Regions from separate parts of the Homo sapiens genome. Here region 1 is linked to region 2. A link means that fine-mapping ties the variant in region 2 to the expression of a gene that starts in the linked region. Tissue or cell type: cerebellum. Region 2 holds a variant in brackets; the other region holds the start of a gene. All regions are shown on one strand. Distances are between the middles of the regions.

Region 1 (5,143 bases), 46 kb before region 2:
CGAGGGCGCTGGAGATAAGGAGGGCGCCTGCCACCCAATGCTCAAAGGACCCAGGTGTCTGGGTCCTCAGCTTTGGGGGCCTGGGGGCAGGAAATGAAACCTAGTAGAACAGAAAGTGAAACTGCCCCGGTGGGGCCTCGGGAAGGAAGGTAAGCGGCCCTAACACACCTGGACCTGGCAGAAAAATAAAACTGGGGTGAAGCCTGAGCGGGGCAGGCTGGGGACTTGAGCACTGGACAAAGAAGTTCACCCAAGGGACAATCTGCCCCCGTACCCCCACTGCCACCAGCTTCCCATGAAGTGGGCTGAGTTGGGGTGGTGAGCTGGGCCTGCGGGATTGAGGCATTTGGTGGGCAAAACCCTATCAGTTCTCACTGCTAAGAGAGAGTCCACAGAAGACCAGGACTGCCTTGGCCCTGACCCCTTGGGAAGTTTTTCTCTAAGCTTCAGTTTCCTTGTCTGTAGAATGGGGGAGCTGGCCCAGTTCCCCACGTTTCTCTGATGCCCAAAGGATTCATTTCCAGGAGTCTGAAAAGATTCTGGAATTTGGATATTTTGGGACTCCAACATGCTCACATTATAGAATTATACATTCTAGATTCCTACCTGGTATCACTATACATTTTAGGATTTCAATAACCTAAATAAGCGGTAATCTAATATTTTAATATTCTAGGAGTCTGACAAGCTAGGACTGTGCTCTTTGAATTCTTTAGCATTCAAGGACCTCATCCATCCAGCATTCTAAAATTCTAACATTTTAACTTTCTAGGATTCAACAATCTAGGAATCTAATATTCCAGCATTTTAATGTTTTACTATTTCACAAACCTAGAATTCTAATATTTGAACACGAACATGGGGGCAATTTAATTGCCTAGGATGCATATTCCAACAAGTTATGATTCTAATATTCTAACATTTCTACAGTCCAGTACTCCAACACAGAAGCCCACTATTCTTTTAACATTTCACGGTTTAGACGTGGAGTTCCACCTGGTTTCCTCTTGCCATAACACCCAGCTGCCCACCCTGGGGACCCTGGTGTCCAAAATTAAGAGTAGGCTAACAGCACTGTGACTAGGAAAGGGAATAGAGTCCCCAGGGTCTGTAGGAGTGCCTGCCCCTCCACACATATCTCAGGCTTAGGGGAGGGCAGAATTGGGCTCCGAGACCTCACTTGCCCCTGGCAGCTAACTCAAGCACCTGCACCCACACATGTCACCGGATCACCATGGCCAGCCCGGGTTCAATTTCTCCTGTTTCCACCAAATGGGAGGCCCGGGATGGGCCTGGACGTGGAGGTCCGCCGACATCTGCTGCCCCTTCCTCCCCTCTCTACACCTGGCTGGCCCCTCCCTTCCTCCCTGTTTGCTGCAGAAAACAACGACATGCAGGGACATGAAATTTGGGGAGGCCTCTGGGGCACCCCACCCCTGCCCAGTCCTCTCTCAAAGGGATGGTGGGGAGAGGGGCAATGGAGGGGGGCAATGCCCCCTATCCCTCCATCACCCAAAGCTCAGGTCTCCTTCCTCCCTCTTCCGCACACCAGGCCCCAGACCCCTCTGCCAGCGCCCCCTCCTTCAACCTCTCCCCGAGCTGGATCCAGGGAGCCTGCGCCCTCACCTTCTGGTCCACGATGGAACAGGCCAGCTGCTTCACATGAGCCAGCTCGGAGGCGGCGGGCAACAGCACGAACTCGCGGGTCAGCCCGATCTGGATGTGAAAGGAGACCCCGGAACCCGGGGCCGGGATCTGGGGCAGTAGCGGTGGCGGCGACTGCAGCTCTAGGCCGCCGGGGGGCGGAGGAGACCCCGGCCCGGGAGAGCCAGGGAGCCCGGCGGGATAAGAGGGGGCGGTGGCCATGGGGGGAGGCCGGGGACCGGCCGCCTGGAGCCCACCCGGGACCCGGCCGGGGGGCCCCGGGGGACCCTGGGTTCTAGATCCGCGGGATCTCGTGAGCAGGTGGTGGGAGAGCGGGGATCCGAGAAAAGATCTGGCAGGCGGAGGGGACCTGAGGATGGCGGGGTCCTGGGAAGGAGAGAAAGGCACTATAGTGGGTCAGAGGCCCGGAATCCAGGGCTCCCAGAAGATCAGAAAGGAGAAAAGTAGTGGGTTGGAGGTCCCAGCGATTGAGATTCCAAGAAGCCTGAGAGGAAATCTAGTAGGTCGGGGTCACAGGGATCAGGAGAGCCCGCGATTCAAAGGCCCCTTCCCTAGAGGAGGGATTGAGAAGGGGGCAGAGGGAATCCCAGGATCCAGTGCTCCAAGAAGAGGATCCCACTCAGAAGGCGGCCCGGGGGAATTCACCTTGGGGGTGGAGGGCAGGAGTCTCTGAGTCGGGGACCGAGTGGATTCCAGAGATAAAGGGGTTCGCAGGGACCCGACCGGCCAGGGGATGGGCAGAGGGGTCCCGAGGGCCGGAGTGGGTAGAAGGGAATCTCACGAGTCGCAGAAGTTGGAGAAAAGTTCGGTCGGGAGCCGTGAGGAAGGGGGCGTTGCCGGAGCGGGGTTGGGTGGGGGGCAGGGAGGGTCGCCAGGCGCCAGTAGCTCTTTTTCCCCCTCCAAAGTTTAAGTCGGCGGCGGCGGCGGCGGCCCAGGAGGAAGTGTCCGGAGCGACAGTGCAGTCGACCAATCGGCGCGGGCCTCGGCGACGTCAGAGAGGGGCGGAGCCTGCCGAGGGGCCGGGGGCGGAAGGGGAGGGTGGGCCCGGGGCCTCCGAGTTGGGGGCTGGACCTCCGCCTCCAGGGTCCGGGACAAGGGATGGTGTGAGGGATGGAGGGCAGGCAGGCGAGACCAGTTCCTTCCCTGAACACAGCCAAGCCTGGAAAGTTAACTTTTCCCTCGGCTGGACAGGGAGGGGAAACACTATCACCCACCGCCGGTCGCAGGCGTCGGGCTTGGAGGCCACTGGCCCTTTAAGGAGGGGAGCCCTCTCCGGCAGGCGTCCGGCGCCCATGGCAGGGGACGGGTGGGAAATCGGTATCAGGTCCCGGCCCGCTCTCTGGGTTCGGCCTCTCTGTTCTCCGAGCGTCACCCCTGCCCTCCCCGCCGCGTCCCAGCCCAGGGAAGGGGGTGCTGCAGAGCGTCCCCCGGCCCCAGCCCATTTAACACATGGAAAGACCGAGGCCTCCAGATGGGTAGGAAGGGGCTCGCCTTAGGTCTGTCTCCAGCGATGGTGGGCAAGGTGCATGGCGCTAACTGGATGGGTGGGGAGGGTCCATCCCCCCGCCCACCCCAACCCCGCCTTAGGATAGTGTGGGGCTGCCCCGAGGGAGGACAGCACACCCATACCACTTCATAGATGCAGAGTGTGTCTCCTGGGGATGTGGAGTACGTGTGCGTGTCTTTCTCTCCATGTGACTTTGGGTGAGTGGCTTCTCTGTGAGCCTCAGTCCCTCCATCTGTTGGGACTGTAATAGGACTGACCCCACATGGGATGGTGGGAGCCGATGCCATGGTATACTGGTGCCTGGAAACGCAGCAGTTCAGTAAGAGGTGGTTGTCTCTGATAATACGCGGAAAGGGGTGGCCACCTCCAGCACTCAGGCTTTGATGGGTGGGCACACCCATTCAGTCACCCAGCAAGTATCTGTGAGGACCTACTGGGTGCTGGGTGGGCCCTGCTGTAAAACTCCAGCCGCTACAGGGGTCAGGCTTGATCTCTCCTCCCCAGCTAATAATCAAATAGTGGCTACCATTTAGTTTACACAGAATAAGCTGAAGCCTCAGAGAAGCAAAACGTCTTGCCCAAGATCCCAGAGTGAAGTTGCTTGAGGGAAGCTGCCCCACCCACCCCTTTGATTGACAAGTCAAGGCCTAGGTTTGAGCTCTAAGAGAAGGGCCACCTGTCTGGCTGGGATGCTGGCAGGACTGGAAATGGCAGGGCTGGCTGAGGATGGGGGCTGCCAGAAGAGCCCCTCTTCCTGGTGTACGGCCGTTGGGGGTAGCTGAGGTCGGTACAGTATCGATTCTGTCACCACATCCGGGGGCTGGGGCTGAGGAAGGAAGTCTGAGGCTGGAGTGAAAACCCAAACCACCACCTGGGGAACTGCATTGAGCCCAGAGGGATGGGCAGGGAGCACACCACGTGGAGCCCACGAAGGCTCCCCTTGGCGTCATCTAAGGGCCTCCTGCCCACCTGCACCCTTTTTCCTGAAGGGCAGATGACTGTCCCAGCAAAACGCTGCCATGTCCTGAGTGTCCAGACAGCGGCCTCCATCCTTTCTCGTATGTTCACTGGGGCCTGCTGGGGGACTGGGGCACAGCCCTTTACAACCCAGGAACTGGGCATTAGTGCCCTGTGGCAGAGGTGCTAGGATTACCGAGGACGCCTGGCTGGTAGGTGGTGGAAGCCTCCTCGAGACAGGAGCAGCGGTCCCCTCCGTCTCATCTGGAGCATGTGGACACCTGCTCCCTCTTTTTAAGGCTGTGGACCCAGTGAAATGCCATGTAAAGCACTCAGTACAGTAGACGTGGACCACTGAGAAGGGAAAGGAGGGACGCATCAGGACATGAGCCACGAGGGCTCGGGCACCTGCGGCACCTCCTCCCAGCATGGAGGAGCCTGCGCCCCAAAGCCATCATCCTCCACTGGCAGGTGCAGCCTTTTCCCTCCCTGCTCCTTGTGGGCCTGGGATGGGAACAGGAAGGGGGTTTACGTCCTCTGGGCACCAGCCCTTTGGCCTCGCCACCACCCTCACACATCCCAGGCGGGGCTGAGGCTTCAGCTGGACTGTCATCATAGTATCTGCTCCCCAGGGCTCTACCCCTGGGGAGGGAGCACTTAGGGACAGAAAGGGCACAAGGAGATTCGGTCCAGTGCCTCCACTTCTCTCCACCCACACCCCACCCAAGCTCTGGGCCCGTCTCCGGCCCCTGCTGCCCTACCACAAAACCCCAACCCATCATATCCCCTCTCTCCAAACTCCACCCAACCCAGGCAGAGCCGGTCACTCCTCCCCCAAAGTCCCCAGTGCCCTCAACAGATGGCACCGTCACCCATCTTACTCCAAAGGGTTTATTGAGACAAGTTTTCACATACAAGATGGGGACAGAGGGGTTGGGGCTTATAAACAGGAACCTGGAAGGGGACCGAGGGTGCAGGGTAGAACCAAACAAGAGAGTGAAATAAATAGAGGGA
Region 2 (5,143 bases):
GGAATTCGAGACCAGCCTGGGCAACATAGAGAGACCCTCATCTCTACAAAACATTTCAAAAATTGAGCAGGGCGTGGTGGTTTACACCATTAATCCCAGCACTTTGGAAGGCCGAGGCAGGTGAATTGCTTGAGCCCAGGAGTTCAAGACCAGACTAGGGGCCAGGCGGGGTGGCTCATGCCTGTAATCCCACCACTTTGGGAGGCTGAGGCGGGCAGATCACTTGAAGCCAGGAGTTCAAGACCAGCCTGGCCAACAAGGCAAAACCATGTCTCTACTAAAAATACAGCAATTAGCTGGGCGTGGTGGTGCACCCCTGCAGTCCCAGCTACTCAGGATGCTGAGGTGGGAGGATCACCTGAGCCCAGGAGGTCAAGGCTACAGTGAGCCATGATCATGTCACTGCATTCCAGCTTGGGCAACAGAGTGAGACCCTGTCTCAAAAAAACAAAAATCCTTATTATCACCTAAGTTATGATATGACAAAGATCTGTCACAATTAACTTGAACTAATTCATTTTTATTCAAATATGTATTGAATTTCAGTGCTTTCTCAACTACTCTTGTACTATTATTATCCAGTCAGAAGTATTTCAGTATTTTAACAACCAGTATTGGCCAAGTATGGTGACTCACGCCTGTAATCCTAGCACTTTGGGAGGCCGAGGTGGGTGGATCACAAGGTCAGGAGTTCAAGACCAGCCTGGCCAATATGGTGAAACCCTGTCTCTACTAAAAATACAAAAACTAGCCGGGCATGGTGGTGGGCGCCTGTAGTCCCAGCTACTCAGGAGGCTGAGGCAGGAGAATCGCTTGAACCCAGGAGGCGGAGGTTGCAGTGAGCCAAGATCATGCCACTGCACTCCAGCCTGGGTGACAGAGCGAGACTCTGTCTCAAAAACAAACAAGAAAGAACAGTATTTCCATACTAGTTCAGACCAACTAAATTTTAGCCTTACTTGGAGGTGAAAACCCTGGCCAAAAATCTCTCTCTTGTACGTACAAAGTCCTTTTTGTTTTTAAATAGCCTCGGAATCTTCCAGGAAGTGCAACTACCACAAAAAATGAGGGAAGCTTGTATCGTGTTTTGTTCAAAACTTGGCCAAAGGTTGTCCACCATGTGAAAAAACTCACATTGCACATGGCTCTTGGTAATTGGACACCAGTCCACGTGTTTTCAATGTGTTGGAACTGTCTATATTACAGGCATAAACATCTGCCTACCTCCTTGGGTTCTAGGGGACTGGCTCCACACATCCGCATAATGAAATGCTTATTGTAAGTTACTATGTTCTTATTTCTCCTTTTTATTACATTTAGGGCAATCAAGGATCGTTTTTGTTGCTGCTGCTGTTGTTGTTGTTTCTGAGACAGGGTCTCACTCTGTCACCCAGGCTGCAGTGCAGTGGCACAGTCTTGGCTCACTGCAGCCTCAACTTCCCAGGCTCAGGCGATTCTCCCACCTCAGCCTCCCGAGTAGCTGGGACTACAGATAAGTACTACCACACCCAGCTTTTATATATATATATATATAAATATATTTATATATATAATGTCTCTACTAAAAATACAAAAATTAGCTAGGTGCGGTGTCGCACGCCTGTAATGCCAGCAGTTTGGGAGGCCAAGGCGGATGGATTACTTGAGGTCAGGAGTTCGAGACCAGCCTGGCCAACATGGTGAAACCCCATCTCTACTAAAAATACGTGTGTGTGTGTGTGTGTGTGTGTGTGTGTGTGTATTTTAAGTAGAGATGGGGTTTCACCATGTTGCTCAGGCTGGTCTCAAATTCCTGGACTCGAGTGATCTGCCCACCTTGGCCTCCCAAAGTAGGATTTTCTTAAATCATGTTAAATCATGTGCCAGTGGGTTATACTGTCTATGAACTTCATTTCAGGAGAACAGAGAGAACTTTCCCAGAACTGACATTCAAGCCAGCACACGCCCTGGTATGGCCACGCCAGTGGTTAAGACAGCAAAACACTAAATTATGGATTATTTACTCATTCATAAACGGTCACTGCCATGAACCCCCTGACTATTAGTATCCTCCTAGCTCTCCCTGGGGATCCCCTGGGCTGCCCTCTGGCCCAGAAGTCCAGGGGTTAAACTGGGTATAGTGGGAGATAAGAGGGACCCATATCCCGGATGTTGGATGGACTGATGACTTTGCCAAGCAGTAAATATTTTGTCTATCAGCCCTACATGTTACAAAATATTTGCTATGAACAATAGTGGCATGTAAAGACCTGTCTACATTAGCCAGGTGTGGTGGCTAATGCCTGTAATCCCAACGCTTTGGAAGACCAAGGCTGGAGGATCACATGAGCCCAGGAGGTGGAGGCCACCCAGGGTAATATGTTGAGACCCTGTCTCTACCAAAAAAATTTAGGAGGGGCGAGTGGCTCATGCCTGTAATCCCAGCACTTTGGGAGGCTGAGGCGGGCAGATCACTTGAGGTCAGGAGTTTGAGACCAGCCCAGTCAACATGGTGAAACCACGTCTCTACTAAAAATACAAAAATTAGCCAGGTGTGGCGGCTCACACCTGTAATCCCAGCACTTTGGGAGGCCGAAGAGGGCGGATTACTTGAGGTCAGGAGTTCAAGACCAGCCTGAACAACATGGTGAAACCCCATCCCTACTAAAAATACAAAAATTAGCCGGGCGTGATGGTGGGTGCCTGTAATCCCAGCTACTCAGGAAGCTGAGGCAGGAGAATTGCTTGAACCTGGGAGGTGGAGGTTGCAGTGAGCCGAGATTGCACCACTGCACTCCAGCCTGGGCAACAGAGCAAGATTCTGTCTCAAAAATAAAATAAGGTAAATAAAAAATAAAAAACCTGTCTACAAATGCACCTTTATGC[A/G]CAATAGCCCCAACCTGGAAACCATCAGATGTAAATCAACAGGTGGGTGGATAAGCAAACTGTGGTACACTCAGACAACATAATACTCCTTAGCAAGTTTTTTAAAAAAGGAAAGAACTGGGCCGGACGTGGTGGCTCACGCCTGTAATCCCAGCACTTTGGGAGGTCGAGGCGGGCCGATCACCTGAGGTCGGGAGTTCAAGACCAGCCTGACCAACATGGCAAAACCCTGTCTCTACTAAAAATACAAAATTAGCTGGGCATGGTGGCACATGCCTGTAATCCCAGCCACTTGGGAGGCCAAGGCAGGAGAATCACTTGAACTCGGGAGGCGGAGGTTGTAGTGAGCCGAGATTGTGCCATTGCACTCCAGTCTGGGCAACAAGAGTGAAACTCCATCTCAAAAAAAAAAAAAGAAAAGAAAAGAAAGAACAAACTACTGATACATGCAAAAATAAGAATAAATCCCAAAAGCATTATGACACATAAAAAAAAGCCAGATGCAAGACGCTACATAGTATATGATTCCACCAATGTAAAATTCTAGAAGAGGTAAAACTAATTCATAGTGACCAAAAGCAGATCAGTGGTTACCGGGGCCTGGAGCTGGAGAGAGGGGCAGACTGCAAAGAAGCATGAGGAAATTTGGGGATGATGAGAATATCATGTATCTTGATTATGGGAGTGGTTTTTCACAGTATATTCATCTGTCAAAACTCATTTAACTGTATTTTATTTATTTATTTATTTATTTTGAGACAGGGTCTCGCAGCATTGCTCAGGCTGGTCTCAAACTCCTGGGCTCAAGCGATCCTTCTGCCTCGGCCTCTCAAAGTGCTGGAATTACAGGCATGAGCCTGGCCTAATTGATTTTAACGGGTGCAATTTATCATATGAAACAATTTTTTTGGAGCCAGCCTTGCTCTGTTGCCCAGGCTAGAGTGCAGTGGTGCAGTCTTGGCTCACTGCAACCTCTACCTTCTGGATTCAAGTGATTCTCATGCCTCAGCCACCTGAGTAGCTGGGATTACAGGTGTGCACAACCACACCTGGTTAATTTTTGTATTTTTAGTGGAGATGGAGTTTCACCATGTTGGCCAGGCTGGTCTTGAACTCCTGGCCTCAAATGATTTGCCTTGACCTCCCAAAGTGCTAGGATTACAGGTGTGAGCCACCTTGCCCGGCCTATTGTATGTAAATTATACCTCAATAAAGTTGACCTCAAAAAGAGCAGATGGGGGCAGAATCCAACAGGCCTAAGAACATTGACCTGTCTCTAAGAGAGACAAAACTGAGTCACTGCCCTCTGCCTTTCTGTCCCCATACTGCCACTCTGAGCCTAGAACCCAGGACCAACCCTAATCCGGGGCCAGCCTGGGCCCTCCTTCCTGGGCCAAGCTCCTTCAAAGAGGCAAGAGGGGTGGGTGGGGCAATGGAGAAAGGGAGAGAAAGGTGGGAGCTGGGAACTGGGACCCAGGGAGTGACCGTCAAAGTGCCTTTTCTTCTGCTCTTACGTAACCTGCACTAGCAGCCTTTGGGTGAGGCATAAGAGAGCCATTGTCACCGGCGGGTGAGACCTGGCAGTGCTCATCCAAGGTCACATAGTTGCCAGGCAGCAGAGTCGAGACTGAACCAGCCTCTTCCACCATTCCACGAGTGTTTATTGAGCTCCTGCTATACGCATGCACCGGACCCTATGCTAGACTCTGAGCCTACAGCAGTGAACAATTCAAAGATGGTTCCCCCACAGAGTGACCTTCCCAGTGGGGACAGGCAGGAAACAATAAACATCATAAACCAGTGAATTCTATCGTCTGTTGGGAGGGGACTGTTGCTATTAAAAAAGGAGAACAGGGCAGGGCACGGTGGTTCACAACTATAATCCCAGCACTTTGGGAGGCGTAGGTGGGAGGATCCTTTCAGCCCAGGAGTTCAAAACCAGCCTGGACAACATACAGAGACTGTGTCGCTACAAAAAACAAAAATTAAGAAAAAAAAATAGCTGGGCAGGGTAGCATGGGCCTATAGTCCCAGCTACTTAGGAGGCTGAGGTGGGAGTGTCACTTGAGCCTGGGAGGTCAAAGCTGAAATGAGCTGTGATCATGAAACTGCATTCCAGCCTGGGCAACAGAGCAAGACCCTGTCTTTAAAAAAAAAAAAAAAAAGTAGAGCAGGCCTGGCGTGGTGGCTTATGCCTGTAATCCCAGTACTTTGGGAGGCCGAGGTGGGAGGATTGCTTGAGCTCAGGAGTATGAGCCTGGCCAGCCTGGGCCATAGA

The links. PIP is the estimated chance that this variant, and not a neighbour inherited with it, causes the effect.
Region 1: PRKD2 starts here. The variant in region 2 is fine-mapped to the expression of PRKD2 in cerebellum (GTEx, PIP 0.99).

Annotation. Positions count from the first base shown.
Region 1 is chr19:46,714,505-46,719,647 of GRCh38, forward strand. It overlaps PRKD2 (protein kinase D2), which reads right to left and starts at 2,610. Exons shown (of 18, transcript NM_016457.5): 1 at 1,627-2,610. The coding sequence starts at 1,866. It overlaps STRN4 (striatin 4), which reads right to left. Exons shown (of 18, transcript NM_013403.3): 18 at 5,007-5,143. LOC107987269 reads right to left here. Exons shown (of 4, transcript XM_017027568.2): 1 at 4,142-5,143; 2 at 3,849-3,998; 3 at 3,295-3,472; 4 at 2,030-2,673. The coding sequence starts at 4,559. The coding sequence ends at 2,307. RefSeq lists enhancers at 45-344, 3,856-3,905 and silencers at 2,506-2,555, 2,576-2,735.
Region 2 is chr19:46,760,513-46,765,655 of GRCh38, forward strand. No RefSeq gene overlaps it. Among named protein-coding and RNA genes, the nearest start is that of STRN4, 17 kb to the left of the region's middle. RefSeq lists a silencer at 940-1,234. The variant A/G (reference allele first, on the strand shown) is at 2,866.